Linked DNA regions of Homo sapiens. The protein of the gene in region 2 purifies or fractionates together with the protein of the main gene of each other region. This does not show direct contact. Each region holds a gene or a part of one and is shown on either strand. Other genes may lie near its edges.

Evidence for each region. Proteins that work in one complex are often made in the same cells at the same time.
Region 1: the proteins of CSTF2T (region 2) and CSTF1 purify together in Homo sapiens (affinity purification with mass spectrometry; 3 studies listed by BioGRID and IntAct, with this or other methods). This does not show direct contact.

Annotation. Positions count from the first base shown.
Region 1 is NC_000020.11:56,395,629-56,399,382, forward strand, and holds part of CSTF1 (cleavage stimulation factor subunit 1), read left to right. Parts: coding exon 1-93; intron 94-1,578; coding exon 1,579-1,856; intron 1,857-2,015; coding exon 2,016-2,213; intron 2,214-3,338; coding exon 3,339-3,729; intron 3,730-3,754. UniProt on the Homo sapiens protein: One of the multiple factors required for polyadenylation and 3'-end cleavage of mammalian pre-mRNAs. May be responsible for the interaction of CSTF with other factors to form a stable complex on the pre-mRNA.
Region 2 is NC_000010.11:51,697,924-51,701,677, reverse strand, and holds the start of CSTF2T (cleavage stimulation factor subunit 2 tau variant), read left to right. Parts: upstream 1-2,082; 5' UTR 2,083-2,128; coding exon 2,129-3,754. UniProt on the Homo sapiens protein: May play a significant role in AAUAAA-independent mRNA polyadenylation in germ cells. Directly involved in the binding to pre-mRNAs.

The sequences.
Region 1 (3,754 bases), on a different chromosome or scaffold from region 2:
GCTACATCAGCATCGCCAATGGCCTCATCAATGAAATCAAGCCTCAGTCTGTGTGTGCACCCTCGGAGCAGCTCCTGCATCTCATCAAACTCGGTAGATTGTGAACACAAATCCATACGTCCCATGGCAAGGTTTTAGATATTTTCATATGGCAGAATTTTTCAAGATTATTCTTGTTTTGTTTCAGTACCTAGTATGAGCCGGGTACTTCAGTAAGTAAGTAGTTCAGCATGAGTTCAGGAAGTAGCTCAGTAAGTAAGGGGTAAAGCAAAGTTCAGATTATGAAGACCTTAAGCTGGTTCTGGCCTGAGGGTCTTTGTACACATTATCTGGAACACTCTGTCAGACATATTACTGACTTCCTTCAGATTTTACATCAAATGTCATCTGAGTTCTCTTAACTCCTCCTAAAATAATCCGACCCTTTCGTGCATTTTCCCGGTTACCCTGCCATAGCGATCCCATTTGTTTTATAACAGTTGTTTTGAAATTTCCTTTATCATTTGGGCTGTTTCCCATGGGATCCTTACCTCCACACTTCCCACCTACTGCTGCCCCCTTGTCAAAAAAGACTACAAGTTGAGTAAGGATCAGGACCTTGTATTATTCAGCAGTATATCCTGGAGCCTACCTGGCTAATAATAGAAAGCACTCAATAAAATATTGAATTACCAAACATGTTAATACCCTTTGACTTGGCAGTGCCAATTGTGAGCATTTCTCCTGGGGAAATAAAATGGACAAACTGCAATGCCAACAACATGGAATTAGCTGTAAATTTTTAAATATCCATAAAAGTGAATACTATAACATAATTATATAGATGAATATTTATTAGCCAAGATACACTTTTGTTCTGCTTGATTAAGTGAACAAGTGAGTCACAACATGTTACACAGCATTGCTCTATTACTGTTTTGAAAAATAAAACAGCCGTGCACGGGGAAGGATCCCTAAGAATTTATACCGATACGTTAACAGTTATTATCTCTGGGTGGTAAAATTCAAGGTCATTTTTATTTTCTTGTTCATCCATAGTGTTAATTTTTCCTCTACTAATCAACATATTATTTGATTTGTCAAGTTATTTATAAATTTTAAATGCATATTCTTGATAAACCAGTTTTTTTTAAATAACTTTATTTCAAAAACATTTCACTAGCATTCATGTTAACAATGTAGCTAACTTAACGAGCATCAGAGCTGCTAATATATCTCAACCCTAAAAATATTAAAATTTGGAATGGAAAAAAATGGATAATTTAACTACAGAACTGCTATTTTTTGAGTTTCTGTAGTTGTAGATAAAGTAGTAAACTCTGGAGGCAAGAACCTGGGGAAATGACTTTGTCTATTGGAGCCTAACCTTCCAGCAACCCATGTGGCCTCACAGCGTGGTGAACTTTGAATAGCATGGGCAAAATACACAGTTTTGTAAAGTGTTAGGTGTCACGCGGCTCCAAGAAATAGGAGGTTGACACTGGTGAGCATCTTTCCAGTTTGGATCTAGAATTTTATCTTGGCCTTTTTAAGAAAAAACACTTGTTTTGTTACGCCCTTAATTTTGATTTCTTTCAGGAATGGAAAACGATGACACCGCAGTTCAGTATGCAATTGGTCGTTCAGATACTGTTGCCCCTGGCACAGGGATTGACCTGGAATTTGATGCAGATGTTCAGACTATGTCCCCAGAGGCTTCTGAGTACGAAACATGCTATGTCACATCACATAAAGGACCATGCCGTGTAGCTACCTATAGTAGAGATGGACAGTTAATAGCTACTGGGTCTGCTGATGCTTCGATAAAGATACTTGACACAGAGAGGATGTTGGCCAAAAGTGCCATGCCAATAGAGGTAAAAATTCCAGTCACATACTTATTGATTGCCTTCTGTTTTTCATTTTTGGAAAAATGAGAGTATGGTTGAAACCAGCTTTAGTTTGCTACAGTTGTGGATTGTGCACTTGGATTCAGACACATTCTGTGCCTTGAGCATCTCTTCTTGTTGGTCTAGGTCATGATGAATGAGACCGCACAACAAAATATGGAAAACCACCCAGTGATTCGAACTCTTTATGACCATGTGGATGAAGTCACGTGCCTTGCTTTCCACCCAACAGAACAGATCCTGGCTTCTGGTTCAAGGGATTATACTCTTAAATTATTTGATTATTCCAAACCATCAGCAAAAAGAGCCTTCAAATACATTCAGGTAGGAATCTTTAGAAAGGAGCTTTACATTTTTTCTTAAATACAATGAGCTATTGTACAACTATTCTCTTTTTAAAAGTAGTCTCAGTGATCATCCTGTAAGATGCGTACAGACCAGGATGCATGCCCGATGGCACATGGATCAGATTTTGTTGGCACATAGATCACATGCTATCATGTACCTGCTCCCTCTGGCTGGTCAGAGTTTATAATCTGACCCTTTGGAGGGTTTGGAATCCATATCACTCTCTAAAGGTTGTAGATCCCTGTTATAAACAAAACACGACCAGCTTCACTAATATATAACTTAGAGGAATAAAAAAAAAGTTCATTTGAAAGTATTAAGTATTTCCTGGCAAGGTGACATTCGGTACCCTATTTTGAATATGCATTGCAGAAATACTAATGTTTTAGTTGTGGCTTCTGTCTGTTTGATAATTAAACTAGGCTGGTTGCAGTGGCTCATGTCTGTAATCCCAGCACTTTGAGAAGCCAAAGTGGGAGGATCACTTGAGCCCAGAAGTTTATGGTCAGCCTGAGCAATGTAGTGAGACCTCATCTCTACAAAAAATTCTTTTAATCAGCTGGGCATGGTGGCACGCGCCGATAGTCCCAGCTACTCAGGAGGCGGAGGCAAGGATGATCATTTGAGCCCAAGAGGTTGAGCCTGCAGTGAGCTGTGACCATGCCGCTGCACTCCAGCCTGGGCGACAGAGCAAGACCCTGTCTGAAAAAAATAATAATAAACTTAATTTTTCACTCAATATTTGCAGCCCTAGAGCAAATTAAAGAAGCTCTTAGGTACAAGTTGTACTTCAGTTAACCATGCATGAATGTGTCATTGTCTGATAATACTCCATCCTTAGTTTACTCAGTGTTCATTTGTAAATAATGAAGCTCACTTCTGTAGTTTTTGGAATAATATAACCAGTAAATATTTAGTTTTGGAAATCTATTCAAAAAATACTTTCATATGTTCCAGAAAGCACTTTTTTTCTTATGATACCTGTGTAATATCTAATAATTGTTTTATAGATTCTTTTCATCAGCCAGATATTTTCCACATTTCCTCTGGATTTAATTGTTCACCAGTTGGTCACTTGTATTAATGTCTCTGTCCCAACAGGAAGCTGAAATGTTACGTTCCATCTCTTTTCATCCTTCTGGAGACTTTATACTTGTCGGAACTCAGCATCCTACTCTTCGCCTTTATGATATCAACACCTTTCAATGTTTTGTCTCTTGCAATCCTCAAGATCAACACACCGATGCTATATGTTCCGTTAATTACAATTCTAGTGCCAATATGTACGTAACTGGAAGCAAGGACGGCTGCATCAAATTATGGGATGGTGTTTCAAATCGATGCATCACAACTTTTGAGAAAGCACATGACGGTGCTGAAGTTTGTTCTGCCATTTTTTCCAAAAATTCTAAATACATTCTCTCAAGTGGAAAAGACTCTGTAGCTAAACTTTGGGAAATATCAACGGGACGAACACTGGTCAGATACACGGGTATGTGAGACGTTGATGTTACTTA
Region 2 (3,754 bases):
GTATAAAAAAGGTATGCCTTCTCTTTGTAAAGTGATGGTATAGAAGGAAGAAAAATAGATTTGTCTTTAGTTTTTTTAAATGATACTATCCTTAACCCCTCCCCTTTCGTCCCCAATAAAAGAATCACACTGGGGAAACATTGCTAGCAGGTGACTATTCCGTTTCTTTGACATAGCAGGAAAATCTTATTAGGTGATGTAAATGAACCTTGTCACTTGCAAATATAAACTGTCGCGCATCTTGGGTGAACAGCTAAGTGCAGAACTGTTTCAAAAACTTGAAGGTAAATGGATGTCTTATTTGCAGCTAAACCATCATACTCATGTCAAATCTATTCATTGGAATAGGATACTGAAGATACATAATACAATTTTTTTGCTGAAATTTAAAAGTTTCATAATCCACTTAAGAGGCATATTTCAGAATAAAATAATTCTCTGTTTTGGAATTAAAGCACAGGCTTGGAGCAGTCCAGTCCACAGAAGTATAATGCAATCTATCCATATAATTTTAAATTTTCTAATAGCCACATTTAAAAAAGTAAAATGAAATGAATAACATTAACTTCAAAATAATTTTTTACTCAAATATATAAAAATATTACATTTCGACTTATAAAAAATATAAAATTGATGGGCTATTTTTACTTTTTTTGTATTTGATCATTAAAATCTTTCATGTATGTTACATGTATGGCACACCTCAACCAGTATGTTAAATTTTGACTGGAAATACTTTCTTTTTATTTGTTTTTATTTTTTGTCTTAGTGTTCTTCAAAATGATTTTTATTTAGAACACAATTTATTATTGCAAAAGTAGATTCTATATCCAAGTTGTTCTAAATACTAAAAAAGTTTTCCAATAGCTTACTGAACATTAGTTTTTATATTTAAATAAAAAATGAGATTTAAAATTCATTTCTTCAATCACACTAGCTTCATTTCATATATTCAATACACGTAAGGCAGTGTAGAATTGGAGCTATGCGAGACCAAGCTGGGTTAGAATCCTGACTTGGCCTCTTTCCAGCTGCTTGTCCTTGGGAATTTACCTAGCCCTCTCCAAGCTTCAGTTCTAGCTTCGAATTGCAGGCGGGGAAACACCACACTGAATATGTTTTAACTCCTACCTGCAAAGCTAACAGCAGAAGACAAACACCCGCTATTTGTTTCTCCCTTCATGGAAGTGGTGGACTCACTGCATGATATAATAAAAATCAGAACCAATCAACGTAGGGATAGTTAAGTAAATTTCTTTATTCCATACTCTGAAGCCATAAAATACTAATAACTAATTAATCACTAATTTATTTAATCACCAATTAATATTGAAATCGGTTGTTATTAAGGAAGAAAACCGTAATATTAGGAATAGCACGACGGCTGCCCGTGTGCTCAGGAAAAACCTAGAAGGGTCTGCCACCCATCCATTAACAGCGGTTATAGGAAGCAACAGAATGGGGGCAGGGCCCAGCCGGCACACGCTTCAGTTTATATTTCTTGTCAGTTAATTTCCAAAAACGTTGTTCTAAAAAGGAGATATAATACTGTTTTAGTTTAAGGGGCAAATCTCAAATGTGCTGAAACGACTACGCTTTTCCCTCAGTCTGGAATGTGATTTTAAATCTAGCTTAACTATACTATAATAAAAGGCCACATGAAAATACTTTGTCAGAACGAAAAACACGCCGCCTTAAATCCGCTTTCGGTTGGCGGTTTCCCGCCAGCGGAACGGAAGCAAAACCGCCTTTGACGTCAAGGGAAGAGTCCCCTCCCAGTTACTACGGTGAAGTCTATGCGGCCATCTTTACTGTGGTCATCTCGTACCAAGCGTGTCGTAGTGGGGCTGTTGGGGCCCCACAGAAAGTCAGCGGAACGTGAAATGGGAAAGGAATCATGCGACTCTGTAATAAGAAGCTGACAGAACCATGAAGGATCAGGGACTGAAAGCATTAGATAAGTTGTTAGTGGGATGCAGGTTCCACAGGCAAGCGGAACGATTCAAGCGAATTAGTAAAGTTTCTGCCCGGATCTTGAAAGCCGCTTCCGTTGCTCAGCGGAAGTGTCGGTCGCAAGAGGACAGACGCCTCGAAGAATCCGCTATCGGCTGTCTGCACAACCGGAATCATGTCGAGTTTGGCGGTGAGAGACCCGGCAATGGATCGATCACTGCGTTCCGTGTTCGTGGGGAACATTCCATATGAGGCAACTGAGGAGCAGTTAAAGGACATTTTCTCGGAGGTTGGTTCTGTTGTCAGTTTCCGGCTGGTATACGATAGAGAGACGGGAAAACCCAAGGGCTATGGCTTCTGCGAATACCAAGACCAGGAGACCGCGCTTAGTGCCATGCGGAACCTCAATGGGCGGGAGTTCAGTGGGAGAGCGCTTCGGGTGGACAATGCTGCCAGTGAAAAGAATAAGGAGGAGTTAAAGAGCCTTGGGCCTGCAGCGCCCATTATTGACTCACCCTATGGGGATCCCATCGATCCAGAAGATGCCCCTGAATCGATTACCAGAGCAGTAGCCAGTCTCCCCCCGGAGCAGATGTTTGAGCTGATGAAGCAGATGAAGCTCTGTGTCCAAAACAGCCACCAGGAAGCTCGAAACATGTTACTTCAAAATCCACAACTGGCTTATGCACTGTTGCAGGCACAAGTAGTGATGAGAATCATGGATCCAGAGATTGCTCTGAAAATTCTGCATCGGAAGATACATGTCACACCACTGATCCCAGGCAAATCTCAGTCTGTGTCTGTCTCTGGCCCTGGCCCTGGCCCTGGCCCTGGGCTCTGCCCAGGACCTAATGTTCTGCTGAACCAGCAGAATCCTCCAGCTCCTCAGCCTCAGCATTTGGCTAGAAGACCTGTGAAGGACATTCCTCCTCTGATGCAGACTCCTATCCAGGGTGGAATTCCAGCTCCAGGGCCAATACCAGCTGCAGTTCCCGGAGCTGGTCCTGGTTCCTTAACTCCTGGAGGAGCAATGCAGCCCCAACTTGGAATGCCAGGGGTTGGCCCAGTGCCTTTAGAGCGGGGACAAGTGCAGATGTCAGATCCTAGAGCTCCTATACCTCGCGGACCCGTGACTCCTGGTGGTCTGCCTCCTCGAGGACTGTTAGGAGATGCTCCAAATGACCCACGTGGAGGGACTTTGCTTTCAGTCACTGGAGAAGTGGAGCCCAGAGGTTATCTGGGTCCACCCCATCAGGGTCCCCCCATGCATCATGCCTCTGGTCATGACACTCGTGGCCCTTCCTCACATGAGATGAGGGGAGGGCCATTAGGAGATCCCAGACTGCTAATTGGAGAGCCCAGAGGCCCCATGATAGATCAAAGGGGTCTACCTATGGATGGTAGAGGTGGTAGAGATTCTCGAGCGATGGAGACTCGTGCCATGGAAACTGAGGTCTTAGAGACACGTGTAATGGAGAGGAGAGGAATGGAGACCTGTGCGATGGAAACCAGAGGGATGGAAGCAAGGGGCATGGATGCAAGAGGATTGGAGATGAGGGGCCCTGTCCCCAGTTCAAGAGGCCCTATGACTGGTGGAATTCAGGGTCCTGGTCCCATTAATATAGGGGCAGGTGGCCCTCCTCAGGGACCCAGACAGGTCCCAGGCATTTCAGGGGTGGGGAATCCTGGAGCTGGTATGCAGGGTACAGGCATACAAGGAACAGGCATGCAGGGAGCAGGCATACAAGGAGGAGGGATGCAGGGGGCAGGCATACAAGGAGTCAGTATACAAGGAGGAGGT